Linked DNA regions of Homo sapiens. The protein of the gene in region 1 purifies or fractionates together with the protein of each later gene. This does not show direct contact. Each region holds a gene or a part of one and is shown in the gene's direction. Other genes may lie near its edges.

The links. The genes of interacting proteins can lie anywhere in the genome.
Region 2: the proteins of DAB2IP (region 1) and SLC30A4 purify together in Homo sapiens (co-immunoprecipitation; one large-scale study listed by IntAct). This does not show direct contact.
Region 3: the proteins of DAB2IP (region 1) and ASXL2 purify together in Homo sapiens (affinity purification with mass spectrometry; one large-scale study listed by BioGRID and IntAct). This does not show direct contact.
Region 4: the proteins of DAB2IP (region 1) and ANKRD22 purify together in Homo sapiens (co-immunoprecipitation; one large-scale study listed by IntAct). This does not show direct contact.

Annotation. Positions count from the first base shown.
Region 1 is NC_000009.12:121,658,134-121,661,633, forward strand, and holds part of DAB2IP (disabled homolog 2-interacting protein), read left to right. Parts: intron 1-3,500. UniProt on the Homo sapiens protein: Functions as a scaffold protein implicated in the regulation of a large spectrum of both general and specialized signaling pathways.
Region 2 is NC_000015.10:45,481,931-45,484,755, reverse strand, and holds part of SLC30A4 (probable proton-coupled zinc antiporter SLC30A4), read left to right. Parts: 3' UTR 1-2,825. UniProt on the Homo sapiens protein: Probable proton-coupled zinc ion antiporter mediating zinc import from cytoplasm potentially into the endocytic compartment. Controls zinc deposition in milk.
Region 3 is NC_000002.12:25,868,488-25,871,987, reverse strand, and holds part of ASXL2 (putative Polycomb group protein ASXL2), read left to right. Parts: intron 1-3,500.
Region 4 is NC_000010.11:88,841,845-88,845,344, reverse strand, and holds part of ANKRD22 (ankyrin repeat domain-containing protein 22), read left to right. Parts: intron 1-3,500.

The DNA of each region.
Region 1 (3,500 bases):
CTTGACACAAACACGCTCACATCCCAGGCTGCATACGTGTTTTGCTTTAGAAATGACATGAAGCCTTTTGACTATTTTTAAGAGAAAGGCAATGGCTGTGATATTTCCCCTGCACCTCCCTCTCGGGGCCACTTGGTTAAATGTCAGGAAAGGGAGAGTATTTCCTGGTCAGGAACATTCAGAGCTTGCTGGGAGCTGAAGTTTTGTTTTCCATTAAGTAGGTATTCGGGGAGTCTATTTCCCTCTGCCTCCTCTGTTTCCCTGGAAGCTTGCGCTTGACAGTTGCAGGGAGGAGGGGTTTGAGAATGAGCAGCCGAGATGCCCACGTATCGCGTGCCCGCTCTAGGAGTGGCGGGGTGGCTATTTTTAGCCATCCCGATTCAGTAGAGGCATTTCAGCGTTTGTTCAATATTTAATTATCCATCTGAAATTGGCCCATGTGGCCTTCAGTTTGGAAGCAGCTCTCTGTGCTGTGATTTCCCAGTTGCATAAATAAGGAAGCAAGGGAATCTCAATAGCCCTCCAAATAATAATAACGAGAAAAAAAAGTAGACTCGATACTCAGCAAAGACAGGCTTGGTTCCTCGGTCTAGACAGACCACCTGTATGTTAGCAGAGAAGCACCACCGAGGACGCCCATCACGCCCTTGGAAATGCGGCGGTGCTCAGTCTCCGAATCTCAGATCCACAACTGCCTGGGTTTTATTGGGGATGGGTTTTCCTCCCTTCGCCAGGTTCCTGTGTTGACTTTGACAGCTGCTGGGTACCTGAGAGGTGGTTTGGGGATTTTGCTTTTGGAAGCCTTGTTAGCTTTTATTTCCCTCTTCTCTTCTCCCTGACAGACAGGAGAGTACTATCGGCATCTGGGCTGTGCTATTTCTTTTTCCTTGGCCTTTGGAGGCGATGTGCCGACATAGTTGTGAAATGAAAAAAGGCAGAGCACAGGGAGGGAGATGTTGGGGCCATGAGGCTCTGCCTTCCTTCCCCAAGCCCCTGGCTGATGAGGGAGAGAGGGGAGAAGAGGAGAGAGTGGGGCCCAAGGGTGCTGGGCAGTCGGAGATGACTCCTTCCTACTGTCCTGCTTGGCATGGAGATTTGTGGACTTTGGGTTCGGAGACTGGAAACCAATAAATTGGTAATCTGGAATAAGCTTGGTTTTTCTATCCATTTACACCTCTATTCTGGGGACACAGAGTTTGGCCTAGGAGCGTGTACAGAGTCCTGACTAGGTCATAAATGCTGTGTGACTGCAGACAAGTCACTGAACATCTCTGGGCTCAGAAGCACATGTAACAGATAGATATGATGCAGCATAGGGTGTCATTATAGGCCAGGAGAATTGTCATTATTAGCTGTTCACCCAAAGTCTGAGGGGTTGCTTGCAAATCAGTTAGGGCTGATCTAGAAAGAAAACGTTTGGGAGGCCGAGGTGGGCGGATCACGAGGTCAGGAGATCGAGACCATCCTGGCTAACACGGTGAAACCCCGTCTCTACTAAAAATACAAAAAAATTAGCCGGGCGTGGTGGCAGGCTCCTGTAGTCCCAGCTACTTGGGAGGCTGAGGCAGGAGAATGGCATGAACCCGGGAGGCTGAGCTTGCAGTGAGCCGAGATCGCGCCACTGCACTCCAGCCTGGGTGACAGAGCGAGATTCCGTCTCAAAAAAAGAAAAAAGAAAAGAAAAAGAAAGAAAACGTGATGCCAGTGGGGACTGGACCCACCTAGGTGGTTTCTCGGCATCCCTACCCTGAGAGGCTGCCACAGGTCTCACTGGTACTTGTTCAGAGCAGCAGAGCTTTAGCGAGCCACCTAGTATGTGTGACCTGGGTGCCAGGGGCTGCCACAGCAGATATAGCCAGCCCCCGCCCTCGGGAGCTCAGAGGCCAAGGGGAAGAGTCTTGGCATAAGGTTAGCAGATGGTGTGACTGGAAAGGTAGGCAGGGCCTTGAGTGGTGAGCAAAGAGGGGAGAACAGCCCCTGGCAGACCACTGGGAATCAAAGGAAGGATTTTGAAAATAACAGGAATGATAACAGTGATCTCCATGTCTTGAGCACTTACACAGCACCAGGGGTTCTTCTAAGTCCTTTACATGCATCCTGCCTTAAATCATCATTCTCCCAGGTGGTGTTATCAGCTCCACTTTCTAGATGAGAAAACTGAGGCTCAGACTGGTTAAGTGACTTGCTGAGCATCACCCAGCTACTGAGTGGCAGAGTCCAGGATGTTTAACCCTCACTATACTTACCAGAGCTGTGATTTAGGAAAAGAACTCTTAACAACCCTCAAGCTAGACTGGTATGGTGCAGGGAGAAGAAAGTGGGAAGAGGGAGCAGGGAGGCCAGTCCGCTTCCTGGGGAATTTTGAAGGAGGCCGGCAGGTGCAGGATGGGGGAAGGCAGAGGGCAGGTGGAGAGGAGCTGGGAAGTTTGGAAGGGCTGACACAGGAGAGAGGATGCCGCCATCTGAGGGCCAGTGCTGGGCTCCTGCCACGATCTCTCCCTGGCCTGCGGTGAAATGAGGACTGTAAGGGCATTGCAGCGAGTTTCCCATAACATCCATTTCACTTCAGTAACCCATTTTGATGCCTCTTTTTTATTCTGAGATGATGGTCTTTGGATTCTTTGGGGTTAGAACATTCCTTTTATGCAATACATAAATGTCTAGTATGCACCATACTAAATGGTGTTCTTTTTTTTAAACATCTATATTTGGCAAGAAAAGAAGTCAGTGGTTCTGTGTGGCCCACCCTCATATTATGCTACTTCATAGTTTTCATTTATAGACATTGAACTAGTTCCTGGAATTCTCACAGGATGGTAGGCTGACACCCACGAAGGAGAAGTCCAGGGGTCGTCCTTACAGCGAGAGGAGTGGGAGCTGGTGGTGGGATAAGGTGGTGGGATAAGGCCCTTGGAAAGGCGTGAAGAAGCGGGAGGATGAGGGTCATTGAGGGCTGGGGTGGGGGATGCCCGGCAGGCTGTGGACATGGCTGATGGGCCTGCCTTGGATGCTGATGCTGCAGGGGTTTTGGCACAAGACTGGGCAAGGGGCTTTTCAGGGAGCAGCTTCAGGAGAAGGCGAGAAAGGTGCTGGAGCCTGCAGGGGATCGATTATTTGGGGGAGAGGAGGTGTGGGGTGCAGAATAGGACAGGATTGGAGAAGTTTGGTGAAAATGGGGGTGCAAGAGAAGCTTGGATTTCCCATTAACTGTCAATACAGTCATGGTTCCACCTGGTATCTAGAAACCTGTTCACAATTGTAGGTTTAGCAGCACACAGGGTGGGGTAAGTGTCTCTCCCCATCAGGAGCAGCCTCTGAACTCTCCTGGGACCCTGAGCTTCAGGGAACCCAGGCTGTGGCCCCCCTCCCCCACTTTGGCAATGCTGTCTGCAGAGGGAAGGGCCGGTTTTACTAGCACAGGGAGTGCTCCGGCTCCTGTGTGTCGGGGAAATTCTGGAAGAGGCTCTCTTCCAGAAGTTATGGAAGGTCCCCGGGAGACA
Region 2 (2,825 bases), on another chromosome or scaffold:
AATAATCTCGACACCCAGCTTCTGGAATTGCTGCTTTCTTTTTACAGAAATTACTACCCAACAGATTTCAGGAAGTACTAGTAGTTATCCCAAAAGTGGAATAAGCATGTATTCCTAAGTGTTTCAGAAATGTTTTATTTCACACATAAGTCTTAATGTTATTGTTATGATTATACTTTATAAACAACCTTTTCCAGATGCTACAGGGTTTTGAATCTCAAAGTTAACATTTTTCATTATTTGTAATCTTAGAACCAAATCTTTATTTATTGTGGTCACTGTTATTAAATGATTTAGGAAATACTTTCAATATTATTCTGAATGGCTGAAGTTAGTCTTAAACTCAAATTACTATATGATGATTTAAAACAAAATAAAAGAGCGAGGATGGGGGTTGGAGTTTCAGGTTTATGTCTTCCCGACATCACTTTTATCATTCATGAAATTGTCTTAAAAAAGCAAGAGACTGCAAAATGTAAACAGTAATCTTCTGTCCCTTTAAGAACTGCCAACAATTTGTACAAAAAATGTGGTACGTTGGTTCCTGCCTCCACTCCAGGTCATCTGTGTGTTTAGCCTTTCAGGGTAAACTCTAGAGGGTTCAGTTTATAATTCCCACCTTTCACATATAGTTCAACAACATTAATCCAGAGAGAATTTTATGTTTTATGATATGGGTTATGTTTTATTATATATTTTATGTTTTATGATATGGGTTAGGGATTCTCCATGGACTCCAGAAACCCTAAAATACAATTTTGAGGTTTTCCAATAATACCATAGCAGAAATGTCCAAGGGGTTGGGGGAAGATATTACTTTGAGAAAACAGAAATGTAAAGGATTTTTGACCTTATATATGTGTGTGGTTTTGTTTTTGTTTTTGTTCTTGAGAGAGTCTCACTCTGTCACCCAGGCTGGAGTGCAGTGGCGTGACCTCTGCTCACTGTAACCTCTGCCTCCTGGGTTCAAGTGATTCTTCTGCCTCAGCCTCCCAACTAGCTGGGACTACAGGTACACCACACCCAGCTCATTTTTTTGTATTTTTAGTAGAGACAGGGTTTTGCCACATTGGCCTGTCTGGTCTTGAACTCCTGACCTCAGGTGATCCGCCTGCCTTGGCCTTCCAGAGTGCTGGGATTACAGCATGAGCCACCATGCCTGGCCTGTATGTGTGTGTTTTAAAGCACTAGATAGGGATGGACATTAAATCTGTGTTGCAGGGAAACTAAACAGAGGTTTCCAAACTGAAGGCAACCTAATTGTAAATGCCTGTGTTAAAGAGGCAGCTTGACTGTTCATGTTTCATTTTGCAACCATTGGTTTTGAGATTATCTTTTATGCACATTTGGAGTCCCTTTTCAACAGTGACAGTTTCTTACACGAAGAATGGATATGGTTATTGGGCTCCTCTAAGAATCAGAGTAGGGTAACAATGTACCAGGCAAATTGTAAGTTGAAATTCTAGATAAGCATGCAGATGACTTACAATATAAATGAAGAATAGGAAACATTTTATCTTCTTACCAAGTACCTTACTATAAGTAAACCTAAGATAAGAAAACCCAGATTTACCTATAAGATTGTTGGGAGTTAATGGTGTCAATAAAAGGATTGATGGTCCCTCTAATGAAACCCAGTAGATGTTTGTTGAATTGAACTGAAAATTTATGTGGCCAGACACAGTGGCTCATGCCTGTAATCTCAGCATTTGGGGAGGCAAAGGTGGAAGTATCCCTCGAGGCCAAGAGTTCATGACCAGCCTGGTCTTTTGTAGAGACCCTGTCTCTACAAAAATATAAAAATCAGCCAGGCGTCGTGCACACCTGTAGTATCAGCTACTTGTAAGGCTGTGGCAGAAGTGCTTTAGCCCAGGAGGTTGAGGCTGCAGTGAGCCATGTCCACACCATTGCACTGCAGCCTGAGTAACAAAATGAGACCCTATCTCAAAAACAAAAAGGAAAAGAAAATATACATGATGGGATTCCTATTGTGAAGTCATTTAAAATAATGACTTGAATTTCTCAGAAATTTCAGGAGCATATAAACTATTTAAATCAAAATATTCTTACATATAGAAACCAAGTAAGAATAAATGAGAGATATTTCAGTGGACATCTGGACATATTTATGGACTTTGAGTATCTAGCAAGTAGAAAGGAAAAAAATATTCATCATACTCTAATCATTTTTTTATATCTATTGAGCTTGTTTCTTGTAAACTTTTCTTTATCTTATAAAGGCATATCTCGCTTTTGTATCGACCTGTTCCTTAAAAAATGTATTTGATAAAACAGGCTAAAATTCATTTGAGTATTGAAAAGAATTCTTTTTTTTTTTTTAAGATGGTGTCTCACTGTCACCCAGGCTGGAGTGCAGTGGCACAGTTGGGCTCACTGCAGCCTCTGCCTCCCAGGCTCAAGTGGTCCTCCCATCTCAGCCTCCCAAGTAGCTGGTACCACAGGCATGCACCACCACACCCAGCTAATTTTTTGTATTTTTGGTAGACACAGTGTTTCACCATGTTGCCCAGGCTGGTCTTGAACTCCTGAGCTCAAGTGATCTGCCCACCTCGGCCTCCCAAAGTGCTGGGCTTATGGGCATGAACCACTGTGCCCAGCCAAAAAGAATCCTTTTGTAAAATACAGAAACACTGCAAACCTTTGTAAATCTTTTTTTTTTTTTTTTTTTTTTTTTTTTAATGAGATGGGGTCTCCCTATGTTGCCCAGGCTGGTCTTGAGCTCCTGGGCTCAAGAAATCCTTCCACCTCGGGCTCCCAAAGTGCTGAGATTACAGGGTGTGAGCTACCGCACCCAGCCATGAAAA
Region 3 (3,500 bases), on another chromosome or scaffold:
CTCCTTTTCACCCAAGAGTTTAATAAAAAGTTCTTTAATTTTTAAAAAAATTGAGGAACTGCTCTGATGCATAATTTTCAAAACAACTGTGTATTTACATTCGTCAAATTACTTTCTGCAAGTCTGTTAGTACAAGGTGACTTGATGTAACACTTTTTGCTTGACTGATCTTTCCTTCTTGCCATATTATTTAAAGTTCTCCTGCATAAATTTTGTGTTAATTTCAAATTAGCCAGGTGTGGGTGGCGCATGCCTGTAATCTCAGCTACTCAGGAGGCTGAGGCAGGAGAATCACTTGAACCCGGGAGGCGGAGGTTGCGGTGAGCCGAGATCGTGCCATTGCACTCCAGCCTGGGCAACAAGAGTGAAACTCTGTCTCAAAAACCAAAATAAATAAAATTTTGTGTTAATTTCATAATTTTTTCTGACCTGTTTTTATTCCTCTATCCTGAAAGCCCACAAGCCTCCTAGTTTGTTGAAGGAGGGGAAAAAAGCAGATTTTTTTTTGAACACTTAAATTAAAAATTTCTATGAAAGGTGCTGCTGCTGCTGCTACTCCTGCATCTCTTGTAGAATTCTGAAAGGCGTTGAGAAAATAACCTCAGGTTTGCAAAAGTCCTTTCTGCTTCCCCATCCACAGATTCTATCTACTCTTGAGAGGCTGGACAATTTTGCTGTGGGACATTTTTCCCCCCCTCTACGAAAGCTGTCTGGAAGGAGGCCAGTGTGGAAGATATAACTAAACTTGCTATCTTTGTCCTGTTTACAAAAGAACTCTGAATACCCCTCTATTTCTGTATTCTTTCTTTTTACATCTCATAGAGGCCATCCTCATAGTTGATATTTTTAAATTTAGTATTTTTAGTACAGTGTGATTTGTTATGTTTTTACTATTGTTAAAAGGTTATTGAATGAGCTAAATTTTAGAACTCTAAATATGATTTAAAAACTGTTACTTGCTTTAAATTTATTTCCTATTCAAGTTATATAGGCTCATTATGTTTTAAAAAAACAAGAAACAAGTAGAAGTATGTAAAGAGTTAATCCTAGATGAGTCAGTATACTGAAAACAGGAATTAAGTGAAAGTCTGCATACTGAAATATTGAAAATATTTACTTACCATACCGAAATTAACTCTGGTTGATAGTTAAATATGGCTTTCTGGATTTTTTTTTACCTCGTATATACAAACAGGTATACCTTTATTTTACATGAAATTCTATAACTTTATTTTATGAATATCATGGATAGCTTGTCGTGTCATTACTTGTGTATTTAATATCTGCCTTATTCTTTTCTTCTTTTTCTTTTTTGAGGTGGGGTCTTGCTCTGTCACTCAGGCTGGAGTGCAGTGGCATTCAATCACGGCTTACTGAAGCCTTGACCTCCTGGGCTCAAACAATCCTCCTGCCTCAGCTTCCTGAGTAGCCAGGACAACAGGGATGTGCCACCAGGCCAGGTTAATTTTTTGTTTTTAAACGGAGCCTGGCGACAGACTGCAGTGGCGCAATCTTGGCTCACTGCAACCTCCGCCTCCTGGGTTCAAGTGATTCTCCTGCCTCAGTCCTCCCGAGTAGCTGGGACTACAGGCACGCACCACCATGCCCAGCTAATTTTTGTATTTTTAGTAGAGATGGGGTTTCACCATGTTGGCCAGGATGGTCTCAATCTCTTGACCTCTTGATCCATCCACCTTGGCCTCCCAAAGTGCTGGGATTACAGGTGTGAGCCACTGCGCCGGCCACCAGGTTATTAATAAAAATTTTTATTTTTTGTACAGATGGGGGCTGACTATGTTCCCCACCCAGGCTGTATTACATCTTCTGAAGATGCATCTGAGTTGTTAGCTTCCATGGTGAACTGTGGCTTGAGTGGAGATTCTGTAATAAAGACCTTCTATAAGTTAACGAATGCTTCTTTCATCATAAAGACTATGTAGTGCACTACAGCATCAAACTCCTGGGCTTAAGCTATCGTCCACCTCAGCCTCCCAAGTGGCTGGGACCACAGACATGCATCACCACGCCAGGCTAATGCCTTATTCTTTTCAATGTTTCTTTCTTTTTTTTTTTTTAGTATTTCATTGTTACTGGATATACCATCATTAAAAAAAATCGGTCCCTGATTATTTAACATACAGGTAATTTATAATTTTTTTCACTTTTTTTTTTGAAACAGGGTCTTGCTCTGTCGCCCAGGCTGGAGTGCAGTGGCGTAATCTTGGCTCACTGCAGCCTCCAGCTCCCAGGTTCAAGCGATTCTCCTGCCTCAGCCTCCCGAGTAGCTGCACTACAGGCGCACGCCACCATGCCTTGCTAATTTTTGTAATTTTAGTAGAGATGGGTGAATATTGGTCAGGCTGGTCTCGAACTCCTGACCTAAGGTGATCCAACCACCTCGACCTCCCAAAGTTCTGGGATTACAGGCATGAGCCACTGCACCCGGCTGTGAAATACTTTTTTTATTGTGGACAAGAAGAAGGAAATTCTGTCTATGCCAGTAAGACTTTGTGCTCCTTTAAGACAGACTTTCTTTTAAAGTGTTTTTACTTGCAGACCTTAACTGAGTTTCTTACATAGGAATGCTAAATCTTTTTTTTTTTGTACCTTTTTAAAATTGGAGATTAAAGAGAACATTCTTTTTCTTTTCTTTTTTTGGAGACAACGTTTTACTCTGTTGCCCAGGCTGGAGTACAGTGGTGGATCTCAGCTGACTGCAGCCTTGACCTCCCAGGCTCAGGTGATCCTCCCACCCCAGCCTCTGGAGAAGCTTGGGACTACAGGCACATGCCACCATGCCTGGCTAATTTTTTTTTTTTTTTGAGATGAGGTCTCGTTCTTGTCCCCCAGGCTGGAGTGCAATGGCGTGATCTCGGCTTACTGCAACCTCCACCTCCAAGGTTCAAGCGATTCTCCTGCCTCAGCCTCCCGAGTAGCTGGGATTACAGGCGTCTGCCACCATGCCTGGCTAATTTTTGTATTTTTAGTAGAGGTGGGGTTTCACCATGTTGGCCAGGCTGGTCTTGAACTCCTGACCTGAGGTGATCCACCCACCTCAGCTTCCCAAGGTGCTGGGATTACAGACGTGAGCCACTGCACCTGGCCAATGTTTTGTATTTTTTATAGAGATGCGGTTTCAGCATGTTGCTCATGCTGGTCTTGAATTCCTGGGCTCAAGCAGTCCTCTCCTATTGGCCTCCTAAAATGCCGGGATTACAGGTGTGAGCCATTGCTGCCAGCCTGTTCTTACTTTTAAGAGAGGATGATTTGCATAAAGCTAGTCAAATATATTAAGTATTGTTTGCCATGAAAACTGGTTGAGTATCTCTTTCTTTGTGAAAGAAAATTATGCTAAGACACACCAAGATATTTGCCTCCAAAGATTCTTTTGAGTTACATTTGGACCTTGGGAAATATCTGTGATAATTCTTAAGTCTGACCTTGCTTGACAGAACTAAAATTGGTTAACGGTAAATGCGAATGTAGTTAGTTCATCTTGG
Region 4 (3,500 bases), on another chromosome or scaffold:
GAATGTAGAGATAGCAAAGGATACCAGGTCATTGTAGGAAGGTATGGTCTTGCCAGAGAAGGAAGGCAATATTAAAGGACAACCTCCTTTGAGCACCCTTGGAGCTTGTAACACTCAAGAAACATACGCATTTAGTCAAACAGGAGATTTTCTGGGGTTGAGGGGGAAACACATTTTTCTTTATTCAACATTGAAAACTTAGGGAGTTTCAACTTTTGTATGTGAAGTGAGCTGATCAGCACCAAAAGTGGTGAGGAGAAGTGAGTTTCTCAAGTTTTGTAAGAGGACAGGACAAGACAAAAACAGCTTGTGCCCCAGAAGTTCTCCTTGTCTAAGAGCCCACAGCAGGAATGTATAATTGTTAAGAAGCCAGCTAAGAAGCCAGCTGTTGAGCTCAGAAAGACAGGTTCAAAGCTCATCTCCACTATTATCAAGGAGAAAGTGGGAGAGAAAAAAATCCCCGAATAAACTTGTTTTCTAAGGGGAAAAATAAGTCATTTTATTTGTATATGCCTTCTACAATATAAGCTTTTATTTCATATATGTGTGCATATCTATTGAAATAACAAATAATTTTCAGCTAGAAAAATTGTGGCTTTTTTTTAATCAACTAAGGAAATCCCACTTGTAATTTTAAAGGAAATCTAGATTATCTGAGATGAGATAAGAAGGCATAAAAGGGATCTTTTACTTTTAACCATAAAGATTCCTTAGATTCTAAACAATAATTACTTTAATTAAAAATCTGTAATGTTTACTTATGTTATAGAAACAGCTCTTGATACATAGCTCCCCTAATCTTAAAGTTATTAAGATTAGAAATACCTTTTTTGGAAAACTGAAAAAGAGATGAGAATGGGAGGCGTTTACTATTTGGAAACCCATAAAGTACTATTTAATACAACAAAATGGTTTACATACTAATTAACTGGGAAGTCTTAACACTAACTTTCTAAACTGAAGGTAGATTTTGTCAAAACTCTGCTAACATTTCCCATCAAACATAAAATAAAATTCAAAGTCCTAACCATGGTCTACGAGACCCAATTTTCCTTGGTCCCATTTGCTTCCCAAATTTCCCGCCACTCCCCTTGCTCATGCAGCCATGCTGACCTTCCTGCTATTCCTAGAACACATCAAATCGAGCTCTTGTCTCAAAGGGCTTGACAGTTGGATTCCCTTTGTCTGGAAGTTTCTTCCTCCTGAAAGTTACCTGGCTCATTCCTTCACTTAAGACAGATCATGGATCTCTGCTTGAATCTCACCTTCAAGAGATCTAAAAGAGTGGCTTTGTCATTCTTTATGTATTCTCTTACTGTGCTTTACTGAAGTATTATAATTTTTAAAAATGTCGGGTTTGTTAGATGAAAGTGGATTTGAGAGTCCTATGTGTTATGATTTTTATGATTCCCAGTTTGCAGGTTGCCGAAGAGAAAGGTATAATGATAGCTTCCCTGACCTAAATGTCGGTTTAATAAACATGTGTCTATCTTGTAGAAAATAATATAGTAGGTTATGTGAGAGTTACAAGAATGTAAGAATAAAACATTTGTTTTCTCCAAAGAATTTACTGCAGTCATAAGGCCAGACACAAATAATTCTCCCAATGAAATCCCTTGTGGGAAATTCTTGATGTTAGTTGATTTCTAATTTGCCACAACTCAACTTTCCTGCCTTTAATGGTCAAATTTATTTTAATTGGACTTTATAGTAATAACCAAAAACTTACTTGTTACACTGAAATAATACAACTAATCCTGGAACCCTAAAGTCCACACCCTTTTTTAGCTAATTGGTGCCACTAAAGTAAACAATTTTGAAAAATGAAAAAGATGCTAATTGCCTTGATGCACCATCAGACCACATGAATCTTCAGAATCAAGCAAGCATTTCTGCAAAGGCAACGTTTTCTCCCAACATGCTTAAGATTAGGCGTGATGAGGATTTGAAAGGGGATTTTAGCACTATGGTTTTGTGGCTTTACCAACAGTTGACCTTTGGCAGGTATCAAGATCATATTATGCTTAAAACAAGGTGGGATGAGGTCTTTCAGCAACCTCAGGACTTCCCGTTTCTATATATGTGAATGAGAATTTCTTCCGCCACAGAATATTCAAGACACAAGGAATTGGAGGTAAGAGTTGATTTTAGGAAAAGGAGGTGAAGTAGATGGCAGGCAAGAGAAGAAGCTTTTATAGAGAAGCCTTCCTTGAGAAAAGTAAATGAAGATGAGGTCAAGAAACAGTGGCTTCAGAGCTGCACGCTAATGGAAGTCAGCCCCTACCTGGGAAGTAGTGGTAATTTCTGGGACATAAAATCAGAAAGTCATCATACATTTGAATGAAGGACCAGAGAGGAAAAAAATAATTGTCTTCAGTATTAGTATGATCCAAAATGGAGTAAAAACTATTTGCAAATATATTATTGAAACTGCAAATCACAGTAGACCTATAAAATTTCCTGTAAGCAAGAATTGGCAAGTAACAATTCATAACACTATGTCTATTATTACCACATTACAATGTGTGAAATGTTACTGATATTTTTTTCCTGTCATTATTTTTCCAAGTATGTGAAACATTTATAGTTGTTTTTATAGGTTCACTTACATGCTAGTCCTCTAATCCAAATTCTTTAACTGAATTTAAGGGGATTTTAGTAATTTTGTTAACTCTGCAGATGCTTGGGAAGGTTTGTCGTATAACATGATACAGAATGTGATGAATGCTATTATGTACCTCTTGTGAGTATCTACTGGGTTTTCATCATCTCTGTATCCCTAGAGCCTAGCACAGTTCTCTTGGAAAGTATTGAGATCTCAAAGTCTGTTGAATTGAATTGAAGAAAATAATCAAGGACTATAGGCACTCCTGGAACTTTTGTGGGTAGAGTTTATTATAAATTAGTGCATGGAGTTGCATAGGAGTGGAGAGAGGCTTAATGGGTTAAAACACTGGTTCTGGAGTTAGATAGACCAGAGTATAAATTCTAGTTATGCTACTCACTAGCTATAAAGAGCTCTGAGCCTGTTTTCTCATCTGTAAAGAGGGATAATATTATTTTTGTTCTAAGATTGCTGTAAGGGTTAAATGAGATGCTGCTAAGGTGCTTAGCATTACAGATGGTATATAAAAAGAGTTCAGTATATAGTAGGTATTATTACTGTGAAACTTTTTACTGTTATTTTTTATTTTTCCCAAAGGAGACTTACATTTAGAGATTTAGTGCTAAAATACCTGTTTAGGTCCATTAAATGTTTAGAGACATTGGCTGCTGAGAGTTCAAATCCTGGGCCCTTCCCCAGCCAAACTGTCTTCTACGTTAAGAATAAGACAGTGTAGAAAAGTCTTGGGATGTCAAAAGGTAAAATGAGGCACGGTTAAGCTCAAAAGAATTTATTTGAGCAAATACCGATTCAGGAATTGGACAGCTGTGGTTTGCAGGCTTTTTGGAGGGAATGCAAGGAGAAGGCTTTTATAGGGTGAAAAAGGGAGTAAAGC